Regions from separate parts of the Homo sapiens genome. Here all the other regions are linked to region 5. Evidence: fine-mapped expression QTL. A gene starts in region 5. Each other region holds a variant in brackets. All regions are shown on one strand. Distances are between the middles of the regions.

Evidence for each region. PIP is the estimated chance that this variant, and not a neighbour inherited with it, causes the effect.
Region 1: its variant is fine-mapped to the expression of CCDC125 in whole blood (INTERVAL, PIP 0.95).
Region 2: its variant is fine-mapped to the expression of CCDC125 in whole blood (TOPMed, PIP 0.93).
Region 3: its variant is fine-mapped to the expression of CCDC125 in blood mononuclear cells (TOPMed, PIP 0.91).
Region 4: its variant is fine-mapped to the expression of CCDC125 in cerebellum (GTEx, PIP 0.96). The same link has a PIP of 0.9 or more in thyroid.
Region 6: its variant is fine-mapped to the expression of CCDC125 in blood mononuclear cells (TOPMed, PIP above 0.99).

The regions. Positions count from the first base shown.
Region 1 is chr5:69,308,858-69,312,945 of GRCh38, forward strand. It overlaps CCDC125 (coiled-coil domain containing 125), which reads right to left. Exons shown (of 12, transcript NM_176816.5): 4 at 2,261-2,347. It also overlaps the pseudogene CFL1P5. Among named protein-coding and RNA genes, the nearest start is that of CCDC125, 22 kb to the right of the region's middle. The variant A/G (reference allele first, on the strand shown) is at 1,621.
Region 2 is chr5:69,300,558-69,304,645 of GRCh38, forward strand. It overlaps CCDC125 (coiled-coil domain containing 125), which reads right to left. Exons shown (of 12, transcript NM_176816.5): 7 at 3,290-3,372. Among named protein-coding and RNA genes, the nearest start is that of CCDC125, 30 kb to the right of the region's middle. The variant T/C (reference allele first, on the strand shown) is at 1,676.
Region 3 is chr5:69,278,112-69,282,199 of GRCh38, forward strand. CCDC125 (coiled-coil domain containing 125) reads right to left here. Exons shown (of 12, transcript NM_176816.5): 12 at 2,064-4,088. Among named protein-coding and RNA genes, the nearest start is that of CDK7, 45 kb to the left of the region's middle. The variant A/AC (reference allele first, on the strand shown) is at 1,732.
Region 4 is chr5:69,287,296-69,291,383 of GRCh38, forward strand. All of the region lies in intron 10 of CCDC125 (coiled-coil domain containing 125), which reads right to left. Among named protein-coding and RNA genes, the nearest start is that of CCDC125, 43 kb to the right of the region's middle. The variant C/T (reference allele first, on the strand shown) is at 1,948.
Region 5 is chr5:69,330,770-69,334,857 of GRCh38, forward strand. It overlaps CCDC125 (coiled-coil domain containing 125), which reads right to left and starts at 2,032. Exons shown (of 12, transcript NM_176816.5): 1 at 1,880-2,032. It also overlaps the pseudogene CHCHD2P2.
Region 6 is chr5:69,467,401-69,471,488 of GRCh38, forward strand. It overlaps the pseudogene RPS27P14. Among named protein-coding and RNA genes, the nearest start is that of OCLN, 23 kb to the right of the region's middle. The variant T/C (reference allele first, on the strand shown) is at 2,077.

The DNA of each region.
Region 1 (4,088 bases), 22 kb before region 5:
AATCCAGGCTGAGGCGGTCTCAGATGGAGATGAGGAACTTGTTGGGAACTAGAGTAAAGGTGACTCTTGTTATGTTTTAGCAAAGAGATTTGTGGCATTTTGCCCCTGCCCTAGAGATCTGTGGAACTTTGAACTTGAGAGAGATGATTTAGAGTATCTGGTGGAAGAAATTTCTAAGCAGCAAAGCATTCAAGAGATGGCTTGGGTACTGTTAAAGGCATTCCATTTTAAAAGGGAAGCACAGCATAAAAGTTCAGAAAATTTGCAGCCTGACAATGCAATAGAAAAGAAAATCCCATTTTCTAAGGATAAATTCAAGCTAGCTGCAGATATTTGCATAAGTAATGAGGAGCCAAATGTTAATCCCCAAGATAATGGGGAAAATGTCTCCAGGGCATGTCAGAGACCTTTGCAGCAGCCTCTCTCATCACAGAGCCAGAAGTCTCGGAGGAAAAAATGGTTTCGTGGGCAGGGCCCAGGGTCCCCGTGCTGTGTGCAGTCTAAGGACTTGGTGCCCTGCGTCCCAGCCACTCCAGCGGTGGCTGAAAGGGGCCAAGGTACAGCTCCGTCTGTGAATATAGAGGGTGCAAGCCCCAAGCCTTGGCAGCTTCCACATGATGTTGAGCCTGCAGGTGCACAGAAGTAAAGAATCGGGGTTTGGGAACCTCCACTAGATTTCAGAAGATGTATGGCAATGCCTGGATGTCCAGGCAGAAGTTTCCTGCAGGGATGGGGCTCTCATGGAGAACCGGGGCTAGGGCACTACAGAAGGGAAATGTGGGGTTGGAGCCCCCACACAGAGTCCCTACTACAGCACTGCCTAGTGGAGCTATGAGAAGAGGGCCACCATCCTCCAGACCCCAGAATGGTAGATCCACCCATGGCTTACACTGTGCACCTGGGAAAGCCGCAGACACTCAATGCCAGCCTGTGAAAGCAGCCAGGAGGGAGGCTGTACTCTGCAAAGCCACAGGGGCGGAGCTGCCCAAGGCCATGGGAACCCACCTCTTGCATCAGTATGACCTGGATGTGAGACCTGGAGTCAAAGGAGATCATTTTGGAGCTTTAAAATTTGACTGCCCTGCTGGATTTTGGATTTGCATGAGCCCAGTAACCCCTTTGTTTTGGCCAATTTCTCCCATTTGGAATGGCTATATACCTACATCCCCATTGTATGTAGGAAGTAACTAGCTTGCTTTTGATTTTACCAGCTCATAGGCAGAAGGGACTTGCCTTGTCTCAGATGAGACTTTGGACTGTGGATTTTTGGGTTAATGCTGAAATGATTTCAGACTTTGGGGGACTGTTGGGAAGGCATGATTGGTTTTGAAATGTGAGGACATGAGATTTGGAGGGGCTGGAGTGGAATGATATGGTTTGGCTCTGTGTCCTCACCCAAATCTCATCTTGAATTGTATTCCCATAATTCCCACGTGTTGTGAGAGGGACCCAGTGGGAGATAGTTTGGATCATGGGGGTGGTTCCCCCATACTGTTCTGGTATGTGAATAAGTTTCATGAGATCTGATGGTTTTATCAGAGGTTTCCACTTTTGAATCTTCCTCATTTTCTCTTGCTGCTGCCACGTAGGAACTGCCTTTCACCTCCCACCATGATTCTG[A/G]GGCCTTCACAGCCATGTGGAACTGTAAGTCCAATTAAACCTCTTTTTTTCCCCCAGTCTTGGGTATGTCTTTATCAGCAGCATAAAAATGGACTAATACACCACCCAAATGTCCATCAACTGGTGAATGCATAAGCAAAACATGGTGCATCTACACAATGGAGTATTACTTGGCAATAAAAAGGAAGAAAGTACTGATACACGCTACGACATGTATGAACCTCTAAAACATGCTAACTAAAAGAATCTCAATGCAAAAGAATCCAGTCACATATCTTATGATTCTATTTATATTAAATAGAAAAGGCAAATCTACAAACAGAAAATAGATTACTGGGGATAGGGGTGGGAATGAGGAATGACTGCTGATGGGCACCAAGTCCCTTTTCTGGTGTTGGAAATATTCTAAAATTAGATTATAATGATGGTGGTACAACTCTTATATCTAGTAAAAATGAATTGTAGTGTACATTTACATGTGAACTTCAGGATATATAAATTATAAAGCTCTTAAAAATATACATACCTAAAAAAACCCTCAACTATATTAAGTCCTTCTGCCTTGGTTTTAAAAGTTAAAACCATACCAACATTATTATTGGAATGTGTAAATGGTGAAAGTTTAAAAACAACTTCTTACCATGCTTTGAAGAATTTTCAATGCTTCCTCTTTACCTCTGAGTTGTCTTTGAGATGCCTCAAGTTCAGTTTTTAACATTTCTACCTCCTGAGGACAGAAAGAAAATTAGTCTTCCTATCTGCAAGATATGCAACCCTAAAATTATCAGTTTGGCTAGTCTACATTTACCCTTGGCTCAAACCACTTACAAATGTGGCTGAAAATTCTTCTAGACTTAGTGAGTGAACCAGACATACTAAAATTGAAAGCCTCGGCCGGGCAAGGTGGTGTGACCTGTAATCCCTGCATTTTGGGAGGCCAAGGTGGGTGGATCACCTGAGGTCAGGAGTTCACGACCAGCCTGGCTAACATGGTGAAACCCCGTCTCTACTAAACATACAAAAAAATTGCTGGGCGTGGTGGTGCATGCCTGTAATCCTAGCTACTCTGGAGGCTGAGACAGGAGAATCGCTTGAACCCGGGAGGCGGAGGTTGCAGTGAGCCGAGGCTGAGCCACTGCACTCCAGTCTGGGTGACAGCAAGACTCTGTCTCAATTAAAAAAATAAAAAATAGCTGGGCATGGTGGCTCACACCTGTAATCCCAGCTACTCCGGAGGCTGAGGCATGAGAATTGCTTGAACCAGGAAGGTCTCTGAGACAGAGTCTCACTCTGTCACCCAGGCTGGAGTGCAGTGGCGTGGTCTCAGCTCACTGCAACCTCTGCCTCACAGGCTCAAGCAATTCTCCTGCCTCAGCCTCCCGAGTAGCTGGGATTGCAGGCATGTGCCACTACTGCCCAGCTAATTTTTGTATTTTTAGTAGAGACGGAGTTTCACTATATTGGCCAGGCTGGTCTCGAACTCCTGACCTCAAATGATCCACCTGCCTTGGCCTCCCAAAGTGCTGGGATTACAGGCATGAGCCACTGCCCCCAGCCTCAGTTGGCTTTCATGTTGTTTACATACTGAGGTTGTAGTTCCTTATGTAGGGACTCAAGGTGAGGAGGCAGCTGCAGGCCCCAATCCAATGACTAGTGTCCTTATAAATTGAGGGAAATTTGGACCCAGACTCATAGGGAGAAGGCCATGTGACAGGCAGAGGCTGGATTTCTGCAGCTACCAGCCAAGGAACACCAAGGATTGCAGCAAGCATCAGAAGCTAGGAAGAGGCAAAGGACTCTCCTCTAAAGCCTTCAGAGGGAGCACGGCCTGCTGAAACTCTGGTTTCAAACTTCAGCCTCCAGAACTAAAAGCAAACAGATTTCTGCTGTTTTAAGCCACCAGTTTGTGGTACATTGTCTCGGCAGCCAAATACAGTAGCTTTCACGGGAAGAGTCCCAAACACACAGTAAGGTGGGCTTCCTATTTCCCAAAGGACAGACACCCCTCGCAGAAACTGCTATTTCCACCAAGGCAGTGGGCTACTCAGGCCACCTGAGACTCTGGGCTTCTGACTTTAATGAGGTTAAATTAAGTCAGATTGTTTGAAGCCACACATACGGGGAAGGCCGGTGGAAGGAAGTGATAACTTACTTTCTCAAGGAGGAGATAAGAGAAGTGGGGTGGAAAGGAGAACCGGTGGGCATGTTTACATAAGTAGCTTCTTTTAAGAGATGAGGTGGATAAGAAACAGAGGAGGCCAGTTGAAAAAGATGAGCTCTCAAGTTCAGCAAGAATGTCTGGAAAGCCAAAATTTGCCTTCCACACAGATTTGGTACCATTTAAACAAAATATCTATCAATGGACTTTATTCACTTGAGAATTTTTTTTTTGTAATCGAAAGTCTCTTACTGGTCCTGCTTCCATGAGTAGCAGTGACCAGGGGAAAAGGGAGAGGAACCAGCCAGCA
Region 2 (4,088 bases), 30 kb before region 5:
TCAAACCAAACATTTAGAGAGGGGTCCTGCTGTCTACTGGAGAGCAGAAAACAGTATCTTTTCCCTGTCACTGCAGGGTAGAGTGGTAGGACAGAAGGGGAGGACTTATGATCATGAGCAGCTTCTGTCCTGAACTTATCTCACACAGGAGACATCTTTATCAGCTGGAGTCCCTGGTGCTGAGAAGCTCCAGCTGTGTGTGCAGATCTCAGCTGGAGGCGTTTATACAACTCAGCTAAGACACAGCATAAAGTGCCGCTCTCAGCCCCAGGGCCTAATTTAGAGCTTTTTTTGTCCTTTTCTTCTTTTTTCCTTTCTTTTCTTCTTTTTTTCCTTCCTTTTCTTTGTGTAAGAGACAGAGTCTTGCTCTGTCACTCAGGCTGGAGTGCAGTGGTCCAATCATAGCTCACTGCAACTTCAAACTCCTGGGCTCCAGGGATCCTCTCACCTTAACCTCCCAATCAGCCAGGAAGTTGCAGTGAGGTGAGATTGCGCCATTGCACTCTAGCCTGGGCGACAGAGCAAGACTCCCTCTCAAAAAAAAAAAAAAAAAACCAGGTGCATGCTACCATGCCTGGCTAATTTTTGTTTATTTTTTGTAGAGGAAGAGTCTCGTTATGTTGCCCAGATTGGTCTCAGACTCCTGGCCTCAAGCAATCCTCTCCCCTTGGCTTTCCATAGCACTGGCCATTACGGGCATGAGCAACAGCGCCTGGCTTGTGATTTGTCCTCTTCAAGCCACCTCTTTAATTTCTGCTAAGAAGGAAGAACTAGCCTCTTCTCTAAATTTTTAGGGCTGGGTGCAGTGGCTCACACCTGTAATCCCAGCACTTTTGGAGGCCAAGGTGGGAGGATTGCTTGAGCCCAGGAGTTGAGCCCTCACAAAGTGAGTCACCCCCATGTCTACAAAAATTTTTTTTTTAATGTTGCACTTTGGGAGGCCAAGGCGAGCAGATCACCTGAGGTCAGGAGTTCAAGACCAGCCTTGTCAACATGGTGAAACCCCGTCTCTACAGAAAGACAAAAATATTAGCTGGGAATGATGGCAGGTGCCTATAATCCCAGCTACGTGGTAGGCCAAGGCGGGAGAATCCTTGAACTCGGGAGGAGGAGGTTGTAGTGAGGTGAGATTGCACCATTGCACTCTAGCCTGGGTGACAGAGTGAGACTCTGTCTCAAAAAAAAAAAAGAAATCTGGGCATGGTGGTGGGTGTCTGCAATCCCAGCTACTCAGGAAGTGGAGGCAGGAGAATCACTTGAACCTGGGAGGCAGAGGTCACAGTGAGCCAAGATTGTGCCACTGCACTCCAGCCTGGGCGACAGAGTGAGATTCTGTCTCAAAATAATAATAATAATAATAATAATATATTTTTTAATTAGCTGGACATGGTGGAACATGCCTGTAGTACCAACAACTTGGGAGGCTGAGGTGGGAGGATCTCTTGAGCCCAGAAAGTGGAGGTTGCAGTGAACTGAGATTGTGTCACTGCACTCCAAACTGGGCAACAGAGCAAGACCCTGTGTGAAAATAAATAAATAAATAAACAAATAAATAAATAAAATATGTAAAAAGTTAACATCAGTTTGGACATGGTGATTCACACCTGTAATCCCAGCACTTTGGGAGGCCAAGGTGGGTGGATCATTTGAGGTCAGGAGTTTGAGACCAGCCTGG[T/C]CAACATGGTGAAACCCTGCCTCTACTAAAAATACAAAAATTAGCCAGGTGTGGTGGCAGGCACCTGTAGTCCCAGCTTCTTGGGAGGCTGAGGCAGGAGGATCACCTGAACTGGGAGGTGGAGGTTGCAGTAAGCCAAGATGGCGTCACAGCACTCCAGCCTGGGCAACAGAGTGAGACTCCATCTCAAAAAAAAAAAAAAAAAAAAAAAGGCCAGTCGCGGTGGCTCACACCTGTAATCCCAGCACTTTGGGAGGCTGAGGCGGGCGGATCACGAGGTCAGGAGATTGAGACCATCCTGGCCAACATGGTGAAACCCCTGTCTCTACTAAAAATACAAAAATTAGCTGGGTGTGGTGGCATGCACCTGTAGTCCCAGCTACTCAGGAGGCTGAGGCAGAAGAATTGCTTAAACCCAGGAGGCGGAGGTTGCAGTGAGCTAAGATTGCACCACTGCACTCCAGCCTGGCGATAAAGTGAGACTCTGTCTCAAAAAAAAAAAAAGTTAACATTAAATATCTTATTATCCTTGCATCAACTTTCATCGTAAGGTAGACCATTATATAAGAGATATATAACATATAAATTATATACACACATATATATCATTTCTACTTAGGTTCTTCAAATATCAGGTGCTCTACCATTTTGCTTTAAGTGAAAACTAAATAAAAAGGAGAAAATGGGGAGAAATTGCTTAATAGGTAGGAGATTTTACTTTGGAGTACTGGAACTGTCTGGAACTAGACAGAGGTGGTGGTTAGGCAACTTTGTGAATGCCACTGAATTGTTAACTTATTTTTTCGAGACCGAGTTTCGCTCTGTCACCCAAGCTGCAGTGCAGTGGCACAATCATGGCTCACTGCAGCCTCAACCTCCTGGGCTCCAGCAATCCTCCCACTTCAACCTCCCAAGTAGCTGGGACTACAGGCCAGTGCCACCACATCTGGCTAATTTTGGTTTTTCTGTTGTTGTTGTTGTTTGTTTGTTTGTTTCTAATAGAAACAAGGTTTTGCTATGTTGCCCAGGCTGGTCTCAAACTCCTAAGCTCAAGTGATCCTCCTGCCTTGGCCTCCCAAAGTTCTGGGATTACAGGCATGAGTCACTGTGCCTGGCAAGAATTGTTCACTTTTTTTTTTTTTTTTTTTTTGAGATGGAGTCTCACTCTGTTGTCCAGGCTGGAGTGCAGAGGCACAATCTTGGGTCACTGCAACCTCGGCCTCCAGAGTAAAAGCGATTCACCTGCCTCAGCCTCCTGAGTAGCTGGGACTACAGGTGCGCACCACCATGTCTCGCTAATTTTTGTATTTTTGGTAGAAATGGAGTTTCATTATGTTGGCCAGGCTGGTCTTGAACTCCTGACCTCAGATGATCTGCCCACCTTGGCCTCCCAAAGTGCTGGGATTACAAGAATGAGCTACTGTGCCCAGCCAGGAATTGTTCACTTTTAAATAGTTTTATGTTATGTGAATTTCACCTTGATAAATTTTCTTAAATTTAAAAAACCTAAATGATACATTTCTCCCCTCTATTATACTTAATGTATATTATTTCAAAATACTAGCATGTTATCTTTATTGATACATGTGCTCTTAATACAAAAATCATCATTACCTGCATTGTCAGACTTCAGCATTTTAATTTCTTCTGTTTTCACTTTCAAATTCTCTTTGAGGACTGCATTTTCACAGTTTAGCCTGGAAAAAAGTGGCTTTCAAATAACTAAAACATTAATATTTCCTTGCTGAGCGAGAATATTTTTATTGCCATAATTGGAACACAAAAATCTAAATATAGTTTTTCCTACTTCAAAATAGTCTGGAATTTACACGTATCACAAAAATAAAAACAATTTAAAGGAATGTGGTAAGAATTTTTTTTTTTTTTTTTGAAATGGAGTCTCACTCTGTCGCCCAGGCTGAAGTGCAGTGGCACAATCTCAGCTCACTGCAACCTCCACCTCTTGGGTTCAAGTGATTCTCCTGCCTCAGCCTTCCAAGTAGCTGGGATTACAGGTGTCTGCCACCACACTTGGCTAATTTTTGTATTTTTAGTAGAAACGGGATTTCACCATGTTGGCCAGGCTGGTCTCGAACTCCTGACCTCAAGTGATCAGCCCGCCTCAGCCTCCCAAAGTGCTGGGATTACAGTTGTGAGCCATCATGCCCGGCCAGGATTTTAAACATACCCTTTTTTTTTTTTTTTCTTTTTGAGACGGAGTCTTGCTCTGTTACCTAGGCTGGAGTGCAGTCATGTGATCTCGACTCAGTGCAACCTCCGCCTCCCAGGTTCAAGTGATTCTCCTGCCTCAGCCTCCTGAGTAGCTAGGATTACAGGCGCCCGCCACCACGCCCGGCCAATTTTTGTGTTTTAGTAGAGAAGTGGTTTCATCATGTTGGCTGGGCTGATCTCA
Region 3 (4,088 bases), 53 kb before region 5:
CCTGAAGTGATCTGCCCACCTCGGCTTCCCAAAGTGCTGGGATTACAGGCATGAGCCACTACACCTGGCCAGAGGTTCCCTCTTAAAAATTCACTTTATTTTATTTTTTTTTGAGATGGAGTCTCGCTCTGTCACCCAGGCTGGAGTGCAGTGGTGCGATCTTGGCTCACTGCAACCTCCACCTCCTGGATTCAAGCAGTTCTCCTGCCTCAGCCTCCCAAGTAGCTGGGGTTACAGGTATGTGCCACCACGCCTGGCTAATTTTTTTTTTTTTTGTATTTTTAGTAGAGATGGGGTTTCACCATATTGGCCAGGCTGGTCTCGAACTCCTGACCTTTTCATCCACCTGCCTTGACCTCCCAAAGTGCTGGGATTACAGGTGTGAGCCACCGCGCCCAGCCAATACTTCACTTTATTTCTATTTTTTCCTTTTCACTTTCCCCAGAGGGAAATGACTCTATGAAATTGGTGTGTATCTTTCCATGATTTTATGCTAGTATTCTGTAAGAGTGCATGTAGTGAGATGCATAACAATGTACAGCATTGTTTTGGGTCTCAAAATTGTATATAAATTGATAGAATCTCTCTCTCCTTTTTTTTTTTTTTTTTTTGTGAGATAGTCTCTGTTGCCCAGGTTGGAGTGTAGTAGTGCAATCATGGCTCACTGCAGCTTCGAACTCCTGGGCTCAAGCCATCCTTCCACCTCTGTCCCCAGTAGCTGGGACTACAGGTGCATACCACCATGCCTGGTTAATTTTTTTTTTTTTTTTAATGAGACAGAGTCTTGCTCTGTTGCCCAGGCTGGAGTGCAGTGGTGCAATCTCAGCTCACTGTAACCTCTGCATCCTGGGGTTCAGGTGATCCTCCTACCTTAGCCTCCCAAGTAGCTGGGATTACAAATGTGTACCACCATGCCCAGCTAATTAAAGTAACACAAATGTATTAGCTCACAGTTCTGTAGGCCATATATCTGGCTCAGCTGTGTTTTCTGCTTAGGGTCTCACAAGGCCAAAATCAAGGTGTTAGTCAAACTAGTTTTATTTGGAGGCCCCTGGAAAGAATCTGCTACCAAGCTCATGCAGGTTTGTTTTTTTTTTTTTTTTGGAGATGGAGTCTTGCTCTGTCGCCCAGGCTGGAGTGCAGTGGCACGATCTCGGCTCACTGCAACCTCCGCCCACTGGGTTCACCCATTCTCCTGCCTCAGCCTCCCGAGTAGCTGGGACTACAGGTGCCCGCCACCACGCCCAGCTAATATTTTGTATTTTTAGTAGAGACGGGGTTTCACTGTGTTAGCCAGGATGGTCTCTATCTCCTGACCTCGTGATCCGCCCACCTTGGCCTCCCAAAGTGCTGGGATTACAGGCGTGAGCCACCGTGCCCGGCCGCTCATGCAGTTCTTATAGTTGCAATTCTTGTGCTCCATTGCCCCCATTTCCCTTTTGACTGTTAGCCCAGGGCCTCTCTCAGCTTCTTAAGGAAACTTCCATGCCTTTGTCCTGTGGCACTCACCACAGGACAGCAGCAGTGCATCAAACCCACTCGTGCTTCAAATCTGTCTGACTTCCTCGTGTGTGTGTGTAGACAGGGAGCTGCCAAGGGAGAAGCAGCCAAGCAGCTAAGAGTCCAGGAGATAATAGCGCCAAAGGGATCTGAGGACACTCAAAATGTGTCTAACACGTGAGGCAGGATAGGAGTGTATTATTCCGTTCTCAAACTGCTATAAAGAATACT[A/AC]CCCAAGACTCAGTAATTTATAAAGGAAAGAGGTTTAATTGACTCATAGCTCCACATGGCTGGGCAGGCCTCAGGAAACTTACAATCCTGGCAGAAGGGGAAGCAGGCATGTTTTACATGGCAGCAGGAGAGACTACCATGTATAAAACCATTGGATCTCGTGAGAACTCACAATCATGAGAACAGCATGGGGGATACCACCCCCATGATCCAGTCACCTACCACCAAGTCCCTCCTTCAACATGTGGGAATTATGGGGATTACAATTCAAAATAAGACTTGGGTGGGGACACAGCCAAACCGTATCAGGTAGTCAAGGAAATGACCATTTTCTCATGACCATACAGCCAACACAATAAACCTCAGCATTCACATTGTAATTGAGCTCATTTAAGCAAAGCTATCTTCAGTAGGGACTTTCCCTTCTAGAGAGCATACACATTTTGATTTTACCTGTCCTCAAACTGATCCTTTGCACATGATAATAATAAAAAACACACCTCTAGGTGGAAATTTAAGATGCTACTGAGACATGTGGTGTATGAACAAGCATTAACAGCTACTGCACCTGTGCAGAGGACCACCCAGGACATGATTACTGCAACACCTCACCTCCTTATGAATAATAATGCAAAACTCCCATAAAGGGAGTTTCTCCAGCAATAATCAATGCTGTCTCACCCTTACGAGCAGCCGGCCCTGAATTCTCTCTCTCAGGTGTACTGTCTGTTCTGCACCTAACTTTCAAAATACTCCTTTTCTTTTGCAATAAATTATGCTGCATCTCCTTTGCTGTCTCATTTAAATTCTTTTAAACCAAGAAGACAAGAACTGAGGTATCACAACAGCTGTCAACACATGCATTTTGCTTTATTCATTTGCTTTATCTTATGGATCTCTCCATTTTGTAGAGTATTCCATTGTATAGCTGTACAGTAATTTAGATAAACTTTTGTATTGATAGCCTTTTCTTTTGGAGATGGGGGTCTCACTCTGTCACTCAGGCTGGAGTGCAGTGGCACAATCACAGCTCACTGCAGCCTCAAGCTCCTGGGCTCATGCCATCCTCCTGCCTCAGCCCCTGAGTAGCTGGGACAACAGGTGCATGCCACCATGCCTTGCCGAGTTTTTGTATAGATGGGGTTTCACCATGTTGCCCAGGCTGGTCTTGAACTCTGGACTGGTCTGGACTTGAGATTCAGACCAGATCTGTAAGCCACTGCACCCGGCCTTGATAGCCATTTGTTTTCATACACAGCAGCAATTAGTAGCCATTTAAGATATCTGTGCGCCAGCCTACAAGAAATACAAATGTACAGGGTAAAATCCTAGCTGGATCAAATATGAGCTTTGTAAATTTTTAAAAACTTTTTTATTGAGTTGTGGTTTATGCCTGTAATCCCAGCACTTTGAGAGGCTGAGGCAGGAGGATCCCTTGAGGCCAGGAGTTTGGCACCAGCCTGAGCAACACAGTGGGACCCTGTCTACACACACACCCCACCCCCACACACCCCAATTCACATACCACAAACAAAAAAACTCCTAGAAATCACCTTGGCTCAGGCAGCTTCTTCAGATTCCTGAGACCCCATTTCCTGGATCATCACAACCATCTCACAGGATGCAATGAAAAGAGCTGTTAAGCACTTTGTAGACTTGGCTACAAATCTGTGCAGATTTGGTTGCAAAATGTTACTACCCTGACAAGAAGCCATGAACGCAGCCGGCACTGACTCAATATACTTCTGCCAAGGTCCCACCATCAAAACTGTCTTATTGAAGTTAACTTAAGGAAATTGTTATTTCTAAACTTCATATGGTAAATGAAAAATACTGAACAAGGCAAATAAAACAAGATAAATGAATTCCAGAAATTAACATTCAGTCAGTCCTAGGTATTGTTACTTTTTAGAGCATTAAGATACATTGCTATATTGTTGATTTAGCCAAGCTAAGATCCCTATAGTCAATCAAAATAGTTAAATAATTTTTTGTTTTTCCCAAAAATCATTATTTTTTGTTTTAGGATGTTGGCAAACACTGTAATGTGTTTTTTTTTTTTTTTGAGACAGAGTTTCGCTCTTGTCGCCCAGGCTGGAGTGCAATGACACAGTCTCGGCTTACCACAACCCCCGCCTCCCAGGTTCAAGCGATTCTCCTACCTCAGCCTCCCAAGTAGCTGGGATTACAGGCATGCGCCACTAGGCCTAGCTAATTTTTTGTATTTTTAGTAGAGATGGGGTTTCTCCATGTTGGTCAGACTGGTCTTGAACTCCAGCCTCAGGTGACCCACCCACCTTGGCCTCCCAAAGTGCTGGGATTTATAAGCATGAGCCACCATGCCCAGCCTGTAATGT
Region 4 (4,088 bases), 43 kb before region 5:
TTTTGTCGCCCAGGCTGGAGTGCAACAGCGCAATCTTGGCTCACCACAACCTCTGCCTCCCGGGTTCAAACATTTCTCCTGCCTCAGCCTCCCGAGTAGCTGGGATTACAGGCTTGTGCCACCACACCCAGCCAATTTTGTATTTTTAGTAGAGACAGGGTTTCTCCATGTTGGTCAGGCTGGTCTCAAATTCCCGACCTCAAGTGATCCACCCACCTCAGCCTCCCAAAGTCCTGAGATTACAGGCGTGCCACTGCACCCGGCCATCAGTTTTTGGTGGTTTTTTTTTTTTGAGACAGGGTCTTGCTCCATCACCCAGGCTGGACTGCAGTGGTGGGATCATGACTCACTGCAGCCTCAGCCTCCCAGGCTCAAGCGATCCTCCCACTTCAGCCTCCCTAGTAGCTGAGACCACAGGTATCTACCACCACACTTGGCTATTTTTTTTTTTTTAATAGAGACAGGGTCTCCCTATGTTGCCCAGCCTGGTCTCAAACTCCTGAGCTCAAGCAATCCTCCTGCCTCAGCCTCCCAAAGCGCTGGGATTACAGGCATGAGCCACTGTGCCCTGCCTATATCAATTATTTAAAATTCTGCCTTCAGTCTCTCTCAGTGCCTTACTGGAACTCAGAGATTGGGAGCTATACCCCTCTGAATTGCATTTTTTGTGGGAATCTTCCTTAGATTTGTCAATAGCTGAATGTGATATTGTAATATAAGAAATATATATTTGGTCTTTGCCCTCAGTTCCTGACATAGAGCTCCTAAAATCCTAGTAGATAGGGGTGTTAGGTGAATCTTTTCTCATAGTTGGTCTTTGACCCCAGTTCCTAACACACAATTCTTAAGACTGTAATTTCCTCAGTGCTAGGAGCATCTGACACAGAGCCCCTAAATCCCTTGGAATTTCCTGGGTAATAGAAGCATCTTTTGTTCTAATGAGGCTCTTGATGGGCTCCTGGATAGCCTCAGGATGGGGGCTGGTTGCCAGGGGAACCAATCTTGTGATTAGAAAGCTGGAACTTTCAGCCCTAGCCCCCAAACTCCAGGGAAGCGAGAGGGGCTGAAGGTTGAGTTGATTACCAATGGCCAATGATGTAATCACCAATGGCCAGTGATGTACCGTGTCCATGTAATGAAGCCTCCATAAAAACCCAAAAGGGTCTGGGGAGCTTCCAGATAGCTGAGCATGTGAGGTTCCTGAGGGGTGGTACGCCAAAGAGAGCATCCCTTCCCACGTGCCTTGCCCTGTCCATCTCTTTATCTGGCTGTTCATCTGCATCCTTTGTAAGATCCTTTATAATAAACTGGTAAACGGAAGTGTTTCCCGGAGTTCTGTGAGGCATCCTAGCAAATCAATGGAGCCTGAGGAGGGCGTCATGGGAGTCCCAATGTACATACAGCCAGTCAGTCAGGAGCAGCAGAGACAACTCTGTGCTTTTGACTGGCATTTGGAGTGCAGGCCATCTTGTGGGACTGAGCCTTTAACTTATGGGATCTGACTCTAACTCCAGGTAGACAGTGTGAGAATTGAGGGAAATGATAGGATACCCAGCTGGTGTGTGGGGAATCCCCCACCCCTAGCATCTGGTGTCAGAAGCGCTGAGCTGAGTGGTAAGTGCTGTGTGAATAGGAAAACACTTTGGTTTCCCCTGTCTCTTACACTGTGGAAGGTAGGAATTATGGAACATCAAATGCACATATTCTCAAGTGCTGAAATGAGTATGAATCTAGCTCTTGAGAAAAATGCAGCTTTGTCTACACTGCACTATCCTAATGGCCAAGCTCCACACAGGGTTGCAGGCCTTGCAGGCAGGTGACAGGGTCTGACAGGCATTCGTAAGATTAAGATTACTTTAACCCTGACTTTCCCCTTCGTCTCTTCTTTTTCCCATCACTTTTCTTTCCACCTCTATCAAAACAAACAAATATTTACAATCTGACTTT[C/T]TAAGAAGATCTGCCTTCAATTAGCACAAAACACCAGGGCTGTCCTCAAAGAGGATTTTACAATCCAACTGCTATTAAGGGCTTAGCTGAGAGAGGAGGTGTCTGAGGAAGATTATCTACACATAGCTGTGGTCCGTGGTAGAACCAGGTATTCTTAGTGTTTTCCACTGGTTCCTAAAAGGCTAAATACATGGACCATGTTAGCTTTTTCCCTGGCAAAATCACCTAACCTGGATTGAACATTAAAGTTGTACCTTCAGCTTTTATGAAGAGTTTATTATAGAAAATGACCATATTATCTAAATACATTATTTTGTATTTATTATAAGACATTGTTGGCCAGGTGCAGTGGATCACATCTGTAACCACAGCATTTTGGGAGGCCGAGGAGGGAGGACCGCTTGAGCCCAGGAGTTTGAGACCAGCCTGGGTAACACAGTGAGACCTCATCTCTATAAACAAATACAAAATTTAGCCTGGCATGGTGGCACATGCCTGAAGTCCCAGCTGCTAGGGAGGCTGAGGTGGGAGGATTGCTTGAGCCCATGAGGTAGAGGCTGCAGTGAGTCATGATCACACCACTGCACTCCAGCCTGGGCAACAGGATAAGATGCTGCCTCAAAAAAAAAAAAAAAAAAGCTACTAAAACACTGTCGGGAATTTAGCCATTATATTTTCTCAAAAGTTTCGTGTCAGAAAACATTTTTAGAAATTAATTTCAAGAAAATATGAATGACTTTCTCAGAATAAGTGTTACAAAACATTATATTTTCCTGTTTTGTCCTGGCTTCCATCTAATGAACACTCCAAACATGTAGCTTCTATGATCTGCATTTCCCTACTCTGTAGTTCTGATTTACTGCTTCTATTTCTATCATCCCTCTGCATCACTTCTTACCCTTTTCAGCAAAGAAAAGGGGGAAAGCTTAGTTAATGAAACTAAAATTCACGACAGCTGACTCCTATACTATTAGTAATATATACTGTTTGAAAATAAATATTTCAAACAAAATGGCTATCTACTATAAAGCTTTCATTTTATTATTATTATTATTATTACTATTATTATTATTATTTTGAGACAGAGTCTTGCTCTGTCACCCAGGCTAGAGTACAGTGGCGCAATCTTGGCTCACTGCAACCTCTGCCTTCCAGGTTCAAGCGATTCTCCTGCCTCAGCTTCCCGAGTAGCTGGGATTACAGGTGAGTGCCATCACACCCAGCTAATTTTTGTATTTTTAGTAGAGATGGGGTTTCTCAATGTTGGCCAGGCTGGTCTTGAACTCCTGACCTCAGGTGATCTGCCTGCCTCAGCCTGCCAAAGTGCTGGGATTACAGGCCTGAGCCACCGCACATGGCCAGGTTTCTTTTTTTTTTCTTTTTTTTCTTTTTTTTTTTTTTTTGTTTGAGACAGTCTTGCTCTTTCCCCCAGGCTGGAGTGCAGTAGTGCAATCTTGGCTCACTGCAACCTCCACTTCCCAGGTTCAAGCAATTCTCCTGCCTCAGCCTCCCAAGTAGCTGGGACTACAGGCGCCTGCGACCAAGCCCGGCTAATTTTTGTATTTTTAGTAGAGGCAGGGTTTCACCATGTTGGCCAGGCTGGTCTCAAACTCCTGACCTCAAATGATCCACCCACCTCGGCCTCCCAAAGTGCTGGGATTACAGGCATGAGCCACGACGCCCAGCCAACAGGTTCCATTTTAAATATTTTCTATGATGGTGTTCCCCTAAGATCATTTTAAATATTACAAGATGTGTATTAGTCTTTCTAAATTCACCTGAATATAAGAGATGTTAGAATTATAGATCTGACAGATAAGAAAATATTTAGAAATACAGTCATCCTAGAATTTTTCTACAAAACATTTAAAATTCTTATAAACTTCACTTGATTCTTTCTCAACTGATAAATGGTTTCAAATTATAATTTGACATTTTAAACTGAAGCAATATGAATTCTACAGAATAATACTGATGAATAAAAATTGGTATGAACTACTTAGAGAAACAGATTTCTAAAAAATAACAGCTACTTTGTTCATACTGGAAGATCTACTTCAATTCTCTCATGCTATTTTAATATATTTTTTAATACACAGATATAATAATACTCAATACTGATCATTTTTTTTTTTTTGAGA
Region 5 (4,088 bases):
CTCCCCAAACTATGTCATTCTTTGCACATTAATTTCACTGCCCTGGTGGAACGTCTCTTTAATTCCCCAAGGCTAGCCTGATAATTTCCTAATTGGTCTACTTCAAGCCAACCTACATACTGCTGCCAAGTCAATAATATCCAAGTGCAAACCGAATGATGTCTCTCTCTTGCTGTAAAACATTCCATGGCTCCCATGGCATGTATAATTGTAGTCAATGTCACCCTGTTTTCCTTTTTAAAAAAAATGTAGGCTGGGCACAGTGGCTCACACATGTAATCCGAGCACTTTGGGAGGCTGAGGCGGGCAGATCACCTGAGGTCAGGAGTTTGTGACCAGCCTGGCCAACATGGTGAAACCCCGTCTCTACTAAAAATACAAAAATTAGCCAGGTATGGTGGCGGGCGCCTTTAATCCCAACTACTTGGGAGGCTAAGCAGGAGAATCGCTTGAACTTGGGAGGTGGAGGTTCCAGTGAGCTGAGACAGCACTATTGTCTGTCACCCACGCTGGAGTGCAATGGTGCGATCTCGGCTCACTGCAACCTAGACCTCCTGGGTTCAAGCGATTCTCCTGCCTCAGCCTCCCCAGTAGCGGAGATTACAGGCGCCCACCACCATGCCCGGCTAATATTTGTATTTTTGTAGAGACGGGGTTTCACCATGTTGGCCAGGCTGGTCTAGACCTCCAGACCTCAGGAGATCTGCTCACCGGTCTCCCAAAGTGCTGGAATTACAGGCGTGAGCCACTGCGCCCAGCCGAAACTCCGTTTCAAAAAAATAAAAATAAAAATAATGTATCCAACTGAAGTGTCACCCTGTTTTCTACAACAAAGCTACAGTTTTCACCTCCAGTTTCATCTGGCAGTACTCCCTGGATGTACTCTGCGCTTCCACGTAAGAGGAACTGCACTTGCTCCCAGGGCTCCTCCCTCAGCTCAGCTTGGTCACCTGCAAGCCTCTATTGGTGCCATTCTTCACCCCAGGAATGCTGTTTCTTCTCAGAGCCCCCTCAGTTCAGGACAGCACTCCCTCCAGTAGCCTTCCTGACTCCCTTGGACCAGATGTGATTTCTTCCACATCTGAGTCTTCCCAGTTCTGGGAGGTTTTACTGAATCTTTTTAATAGTGCTTACTTCCTACCTGACCTAGACTGACTGTATATTCCCTTATGCAGAGACTTTGTGTGTCTCGTTTGCTTATGCACAACATGTGTTCCAAAGATATTTGACAGAATCGAAAGAGAAAACCGATTCCTGCCCGGAAACCTTTGGACAGAAGAATCTACATTCAGTAGCCTGACAACTCTGCCTTAGCAAACAAGTTGGTCAAACATGCCTAACTCCATGACAAAGAGGAACTAACTTGAGCCCTCCCTGGTGAACAATGGCCTGCTGCACTTTGCTTTAGGATTTTGTTTCTTAACTTTTCATTTTAGAATAATTTTAGATGTACAGTAAATTGCAAAGATAGTACTAAGAATTCCTGTGTACCTTTTACCCAAATTCCTCTAATGTCAACATTTGTGTACAATTTGTCGAAATTAAGAAATTAACATGGGTACGTGCTATTAACTAAACCACAGCCTTTATTATTTTTTCCACTAATGTCTTTTTCTGTTTCAGGATCCAAACCAGGATACTGGCGCTATAGTTTTATAAGGCTCAAAATTAACAGAAGAGAAAAAAAGTAAAGCAGGTGGAGAGGCAGAGAGAGAAATAGGGTCTCTGAAATCTATTTCTTATTTTTTTCTTATCAGACGAGGCCATTAAACTGGCATTCAGGGAAAAGGATTTGGGCAGTTTGTCCACAACCTGCAGAGTTTCCACGAATCTGCGCATCCCGCCCCTGCCCTGGGTCCTCCCCACTCCCGGTTCCCACCTGCCAGGTCTGACCCCGGGTACCCTCTCAAGGTCCGTGGCGGGGACCGGAGCCCGGACTCCAGCTCAGCGAACAGCACCCTCCTACCGCCCCGGCGCCCCACTCAGCTCGCTCACCTGGCAAGTAGCCTCCTCTCCGTGCGCGTGCGCCGCTGCCGCCGCGCGTCCTCCGGGCCACCACGTGACCGCGTGGGCGCAGTCCCAGACAGGAAACGCCGGTGAGGTCGCCCTGGGCCATGGAGGCAGCTCGCGCTACTTTTTCGCGACCTCACTGTGTTCCTGTGTGCAACCTGATGTTAGCTCTGTCCACCTTCAGCTCCAAAGCCAACCACGGGTAACCAATATGCAAACAATGACATGAGATTTAGAAAAACAACAAGACGGGGCCTGTGTCAATACAGGTAAAATTTGGTGGTTCAAACATTGAGGTTCAGACCGGCGCGGGGTTTCACACCTGTAATCCCAGCTTTTGGGAGGCCAAGGCGGGAGGATCGCTTGAGGCCAGGAATTCGAGACCAGCATGGCCAACATAGTGAGACCCCGCTCTACAAAAAATTTAAAAAGTAGGGCTGGGCGCGGTGGCTCACGCCTGTAATCCCAGCACTTTAGGTGGCCGAGGCGGGTGGATCACGAGGTCAGGAGATTGAGACCATCCTGGCTAACACAGTGAAAACCCTTCTCTACTAAAAATACAAGAAATTAGCCGGGCGTGGTGGCGGGTGCCTGTAGTCCCAGCTGCGCAGGAGGCTGAGGCAGAATGGCGTGAACCCGGGAGGCGGAGCTTGCAGTGAGCCAAGATCGTGCCACTGCACTCCAGCCTGGGCAACAGAACGAGTCTCCGTCTCAAAAAAAAAAAATAATTAAAAAGTAGCGGGTGTGGTGGTGCGTACCTGTAGTCCCAGCTACTCAGGAGGCCGGGAGGCCGTCAGGTGGGAGGATCCCGTGAGCCTGGGAGATCCAGGCTACAGTGACCACTGCACTCCAGCCTGGGCGACGGAGTGGAGACCCTGTCTCAAAAAAGAAACAAACCAAAACCAAAATATTAAGTCTCTAGGAATCCTGTAAGAGAAGGGTAGATCGGGCCAGGTGCGGTGGCTCACGCCTGTTAACCCAGCACTTTGGGAGGCCAAGGTGGGTGGATCACCTGAGGTCAGAAGTTTGAGACCAGCCTGGCCAACATGGTGAAACCCCATCTCCACTAAAATACAAAATTTAGCCGGTCGTCACACGTCCGGAGGCCGAGCCGTCGCGTACCTAGGATGCCGCGTGGAAGCCGAAGCCGCACCTCCCGCATGGCCCCTCCGGCCAGCCAGGCCCCCTCAGATGAGAGCTGCACCCAGGCCAGTACCAGTCGTTCAGCCACCAGCAGCGGCACCCCCATCTGTAGTTGGCTCTTCTGCTGCTGCGCCCCGGCAGCCAGGTCTGATGGCCCAGATGGCAACCACTGCAGCTGGCGTGGCTGTGGGCTCTGCTGTGGGTCACGCCATTACTGGGGCTTTCAGGGGAGGAAGTAATGCTGAGCCTGCGAGGCCTGACATCACTTACCAGGAGCCTCAGGGAACCCAGCCGGCACAGCAGCAGCAGCCTTGCTTCTATGAGATCAGTTTCTGGAGTGTGCCCAGAACCAGGGTGACATCAAGCTCTGTGAGGGTTTCAATGAGGTGCTGAAACAGTGCCGACTTGCAAACGGATTGGCCTAATCAAGAAGTTCAACCTGGAGAGATGGAAAATCAGCTCTCATAACTAAGTTAATTTAGTATAAAAATAGAATTGATAGTGAGGGTATAAAGTGTAACCATGAGTTAAACCTCTCCTGTCATTCCTAGCTTCCTTGCTTCAGAATTGAAATGGAAGGGGGGTGTTCCTACTCTGTAGAATCTGTGACAGGGCAAATGTTTGTGTGGCCTCCTTAAACTAGCTGTTATGATTTTATTCTTTGTGAGTTAATTAGAATAAAGTCATTTTCTTCCAAAAAAAAAATTAGCCGGTCGTGGTGGCAGGTGCCTGTATTCCCAGCTGCTTGGCTGAGGCAGGAGAATCTCTTGAACCCGGCAAGCGGAGTTTGCCGTGAGCCGAGATCGCGCCACTGCACTCCAGCCTGGGTGACAGAGCAAGACTTTGTCTTAAAAAGAGGAGGTGGGGGTGGGAGAGAGAGAGAGAGAGAGAGAGAGAGGGAGAGGGAGGGAGAGAGAGAGAGAGAGAAATCTAAG
Region 6 (4,088 bases), 140 kb after region 5:
TTTGGCCTATCCAAGTACTGGGATTATAGGCCTGAGCCACAGCAGCTGGCCCGCATCATATTTTATCATTTAAATAATATTTAATTAAATCATACACATACGTACACACATGTAGTAGCAAGTACAAGTGGGAATAACAGGTTTAGGTACAACACAACTATTGCTAACCACCCATCTCCACTATTGAGAGCAGAAGTAGTGTTCTCTAGAAACAGGCCTTCTAGGGTGCTGAGGTCATCATAAGATGCTTAAACTGAGCTTGTATGTTTCAGAATTAGCTGATATTTTTTAAATGGTCTCTTATTAAGTAAATAACTATCAAATTTCATAAGATATGAATTTGAGGACTGAAACTGTATTAGTCAGAACGGCTTTGGTTTCTAATAACAGAAACTCAAATCAGCTTATGCATACAAGGGACTCTTTTGAATTAGAGAACTGAGAAGTTTAGGAGCTGACTTGGCTTCAGGGTTCCCTTTCAGTCTGTTTCTCTCATCTTCACTGCTTCTCACAGCATATTTAGTCTCATGCTGTCATGTTTAGACTTTCTCTGTGTAACTGCGGAAGATGCCTGGTGTCAGCTCCAGTACATAAGCACGTAGTGGGTTACAGGGAAGTGGCTCTCTTCCAGCAGCTTTCTATCATGTCTCTGGAAGCGTCTGATAGGTCTTGGTTTGGGTTATGTGTCCATCTTTGAACCTATCACCACATCAGATGAGGCAGCCTGGATCTCATATCCGCTAATGTGTGGGCAGAACACAATCCCGTCAGGACCTCATGGAATGGAAGAAAGATAAGGTTTTTTTTTCTTTTTCTTTTTCTTTTTTTTTTTTTGAGATGGAGTCTCACTCTGTTGCCTAGGCTGGAGTGCAGTGGTGCGATCTTGGCTCACTGCAATCTCTGCCTCCCGGGTTCACGCCATTCTCCTGCCTCAGCCTCCAGAGTAGCTGGGACTACAGGCGCCTGGCACCACGCCTGGCTAATTTTTTTGTATTTTTAGTAGAGACGAGGTTTCACCGTGTTAGCCAGGATGGTCTTGATCTCCTGACCTCGTGATGCACCCACTTGACCTCCCAAAGTGCTGGGATTACAGGCATGAGCCACTGCGCTGGGCTGAAGAAGGGTGAGTTATAAATGAAAAGCTGCATGTGTGCTCTAATAGAAGCTAGACATGCAAAAACCACAGATGCCTCCAGCATAGACCATGCTTTTGTTACCATAATAGCAGGTATTCAGTCTAAGTCCTGCTCCTCATAGCACAGAAAACCAATCACTGAGACAATGAGTATTGCCAAGGAAGAAAGCTTTAATTGGGTGCTGCAGCTGAAGACATGGGAACTAGTCTCAAATTCATCTCCTGACTGACTATAATTAGGGGTTAATCTAGCAGGGAAGAAATGTAACTATGCATGGGAAAACAGGAACTCAACTTGAGAGGGGTAAGGAAGCAATCATGATGAATGAAGGGCCTGGTGTCTCATTGTCTGGATGCAACGATCTGGTGAGTTTCAGTTCTTTTTCTTCAGGTACTTTTTGAGAGGCTTTTGAGGGTCCTTTCCTGAGGAAGGAACTCAGATAATACAAATGTAAGGTTCAAGCTTAAGACCAGAACTGTCTATGGGACTATTGAGTTGGTTTCACCTTAGCTATTCTTTAATTCCCTCCTAAGACCAAGCCCATGGAAGCAGCTTGCCCTTAAATATTGAATGGCTCAACTGCTAGTAGCACTTTATTCTTCCAAACATTTTCACAGACTGATAAGGTTTGGATGTTTTGTCTCTTCCAAATCTTATGATGAAATGTGATCCCCACTGTTGGAGGTGGGCTAGTGTGAGGTGTTTGGGTCATGGGGGCAGATTCCTCATAAATGGGTTAGTGCTGTCCTCACAATAATAAGGGAGTTCTCGCTCTGAGAGCTCTTGAGAGCTCTGGTTGTTTAAAAAAGTGTGGCACCTCCTCCACCTCCACCACTCACTCTCACCATGTGACATGTCTGCTCCTGTTTTGCCTTCTGCTATGAGTAAAAGCTCCCTAAGGCCTCACTAGAAGCCAAGCAGATGCTGGTGCCATGTTTCC[T/C]ATACAGCCTGCAGAACGGTGAGCCAATTAAACCTCTTCTTTTTCCTCTCTCCTTTTTTTTTGAGACGGAGTTTCACTCTTGTCGCCCAGGCTGGAGTGCAATGGTGCAATCTCAGCTCACTGCAACCTCCGCCTCCCAGGTTCAAGCGATTCACCCGCCTCAGCCTCCCAAGTAGCTGGGATTACAGGTGCCCGCCATCACGCCCAGCTAATTTTTGTATTTGTAGTAGAAATGGGGTTTCACCATTTTGGCCAGGCTGGTCTTGAACTCCTGACCTCAGGTGATCCGCCCACCTCGGCCTCCCAAAGTGCTGGGATTACAGGCGTGAGCCACTGTGGCCGGCCACCTCTTTTCTTTGCGAATTACCCAGTCTTTTTCCAGCGGTGACGACCTACCCAGGAGAACATGCCTCTCACAAAGGATCTCCTTCATCCCTCTCCAGAATAGGGGAAGAGGAAACACAAGAAGCAGTGCCTGATGCAGAGCCCCAATTCCTACTTCATGGGTGTAAATGCCCAGGATGGTACAAAATCATCACAGTCTTTAGCCATGCACTAACAGAAATTTTGTGTGTTGGCTGCTCCACTGTCCTCTGCCAGCCTACAGAAAGAAAAGCAAGGCTTACAGAAGGATGTTCCTTCAGGAGGAAGCAGCATTAAAAAGCACTCCGAATCAAGATGAGTGGGAAATCATCTCAATAAACACTTTTTTTTTTTTGAGACTGAGTTTCACTCTTGTCGCCCAGGCTGCAGTGCAGTGGTGTGAGCTTGGCTCACTGCGACCTCCGCCTACCAGGTTCAAGCAATTCTCCTGCCTCAGCCTCCTGAGTATCTGGGATTACAGGCATGCGCCACTATGCCCGGCTTATTTTGGGGTTTCATCATGTTGGCCAGGCTGATCTTGAACTCCTGACCTCAGGTGATCTGCTCACCTCGACATTCTAAAGTGCTGAGGTTACAGGCATGAGCCACTGTGCCTGGCCTCAATAAACACATTTTGGATAAAAAATAAATAAATTACCCAGTCTCTGATATTTCTTTATAGCAATGCAAATGGACTAACACAGAGACATTATTGTGAGTGGTAAAGGCAGATTAAATGTCTTGCTTAGAATTACACAGCTGCTACTTGACTTCAAATTATACTATGAGACTACAGTAACCAAAACAGCATGGTACTGGTACCAAAACAGATACATAGACCAATGGAACAGAACAGAGGTCTCAGAAATAACACCACACATCTACAACCATCTGATCTTTGACAAACCTGACAAAAACAAGCAATGAGAAAAGGATTCCCTATTTAATAAATGGTGCTGGGAAAACTGGCTAGCCATATGGAGAAAACTGAAACTATACCCCTTCCTTATAGCTTATACAAAAACTAAGTCAAGATGGATTAAAGACTGAAACATAAGACCTAAAACCGTAAAAACCCTAGAAGAAAACCTAGGCAATACCATTCAGGACATAGGCATGGGCAAAGAGTTCATGACTAAAACACCAAAAACAATTGCAACAAAAGCCAAAATTGAGAAATGGGATCTAATCAAACTAAAGCGCTTCTGCACAGCAAAAGAAACTATCATCAGAGTGAACAGGCAATCTACAGAATGGGAGAAAATGTTTGCAATCTATCCATCTGACAAGGTCTAATATCCAGAATCTACAAGGAACTTAAACAAATTTACAAGAAAAAAACAAAGAACCCCATCAAAAAGTGGGCAAAGGATATGCACAGACACCTCTCAAAAGAAGACATTTATGCAGTCAACAAACATATGAAAAAAAGCTCATCATCACTGGTCATTAGAGAAATGCAAATCAAAACCACAATAAGATACCATCTCATGGCACATGTATACCCGTTAGAATGGTAATCATTAAAAAGTCAGGAAACAACAGATGCTGGAGAGGATGTGGAGAGAAATAGGAATGCTTTCACCCTGTTGGTATGAGTGTAAACTAGTTCAACCATTGTGGAAGATAGTGTGGCGATTCCTTAAGGA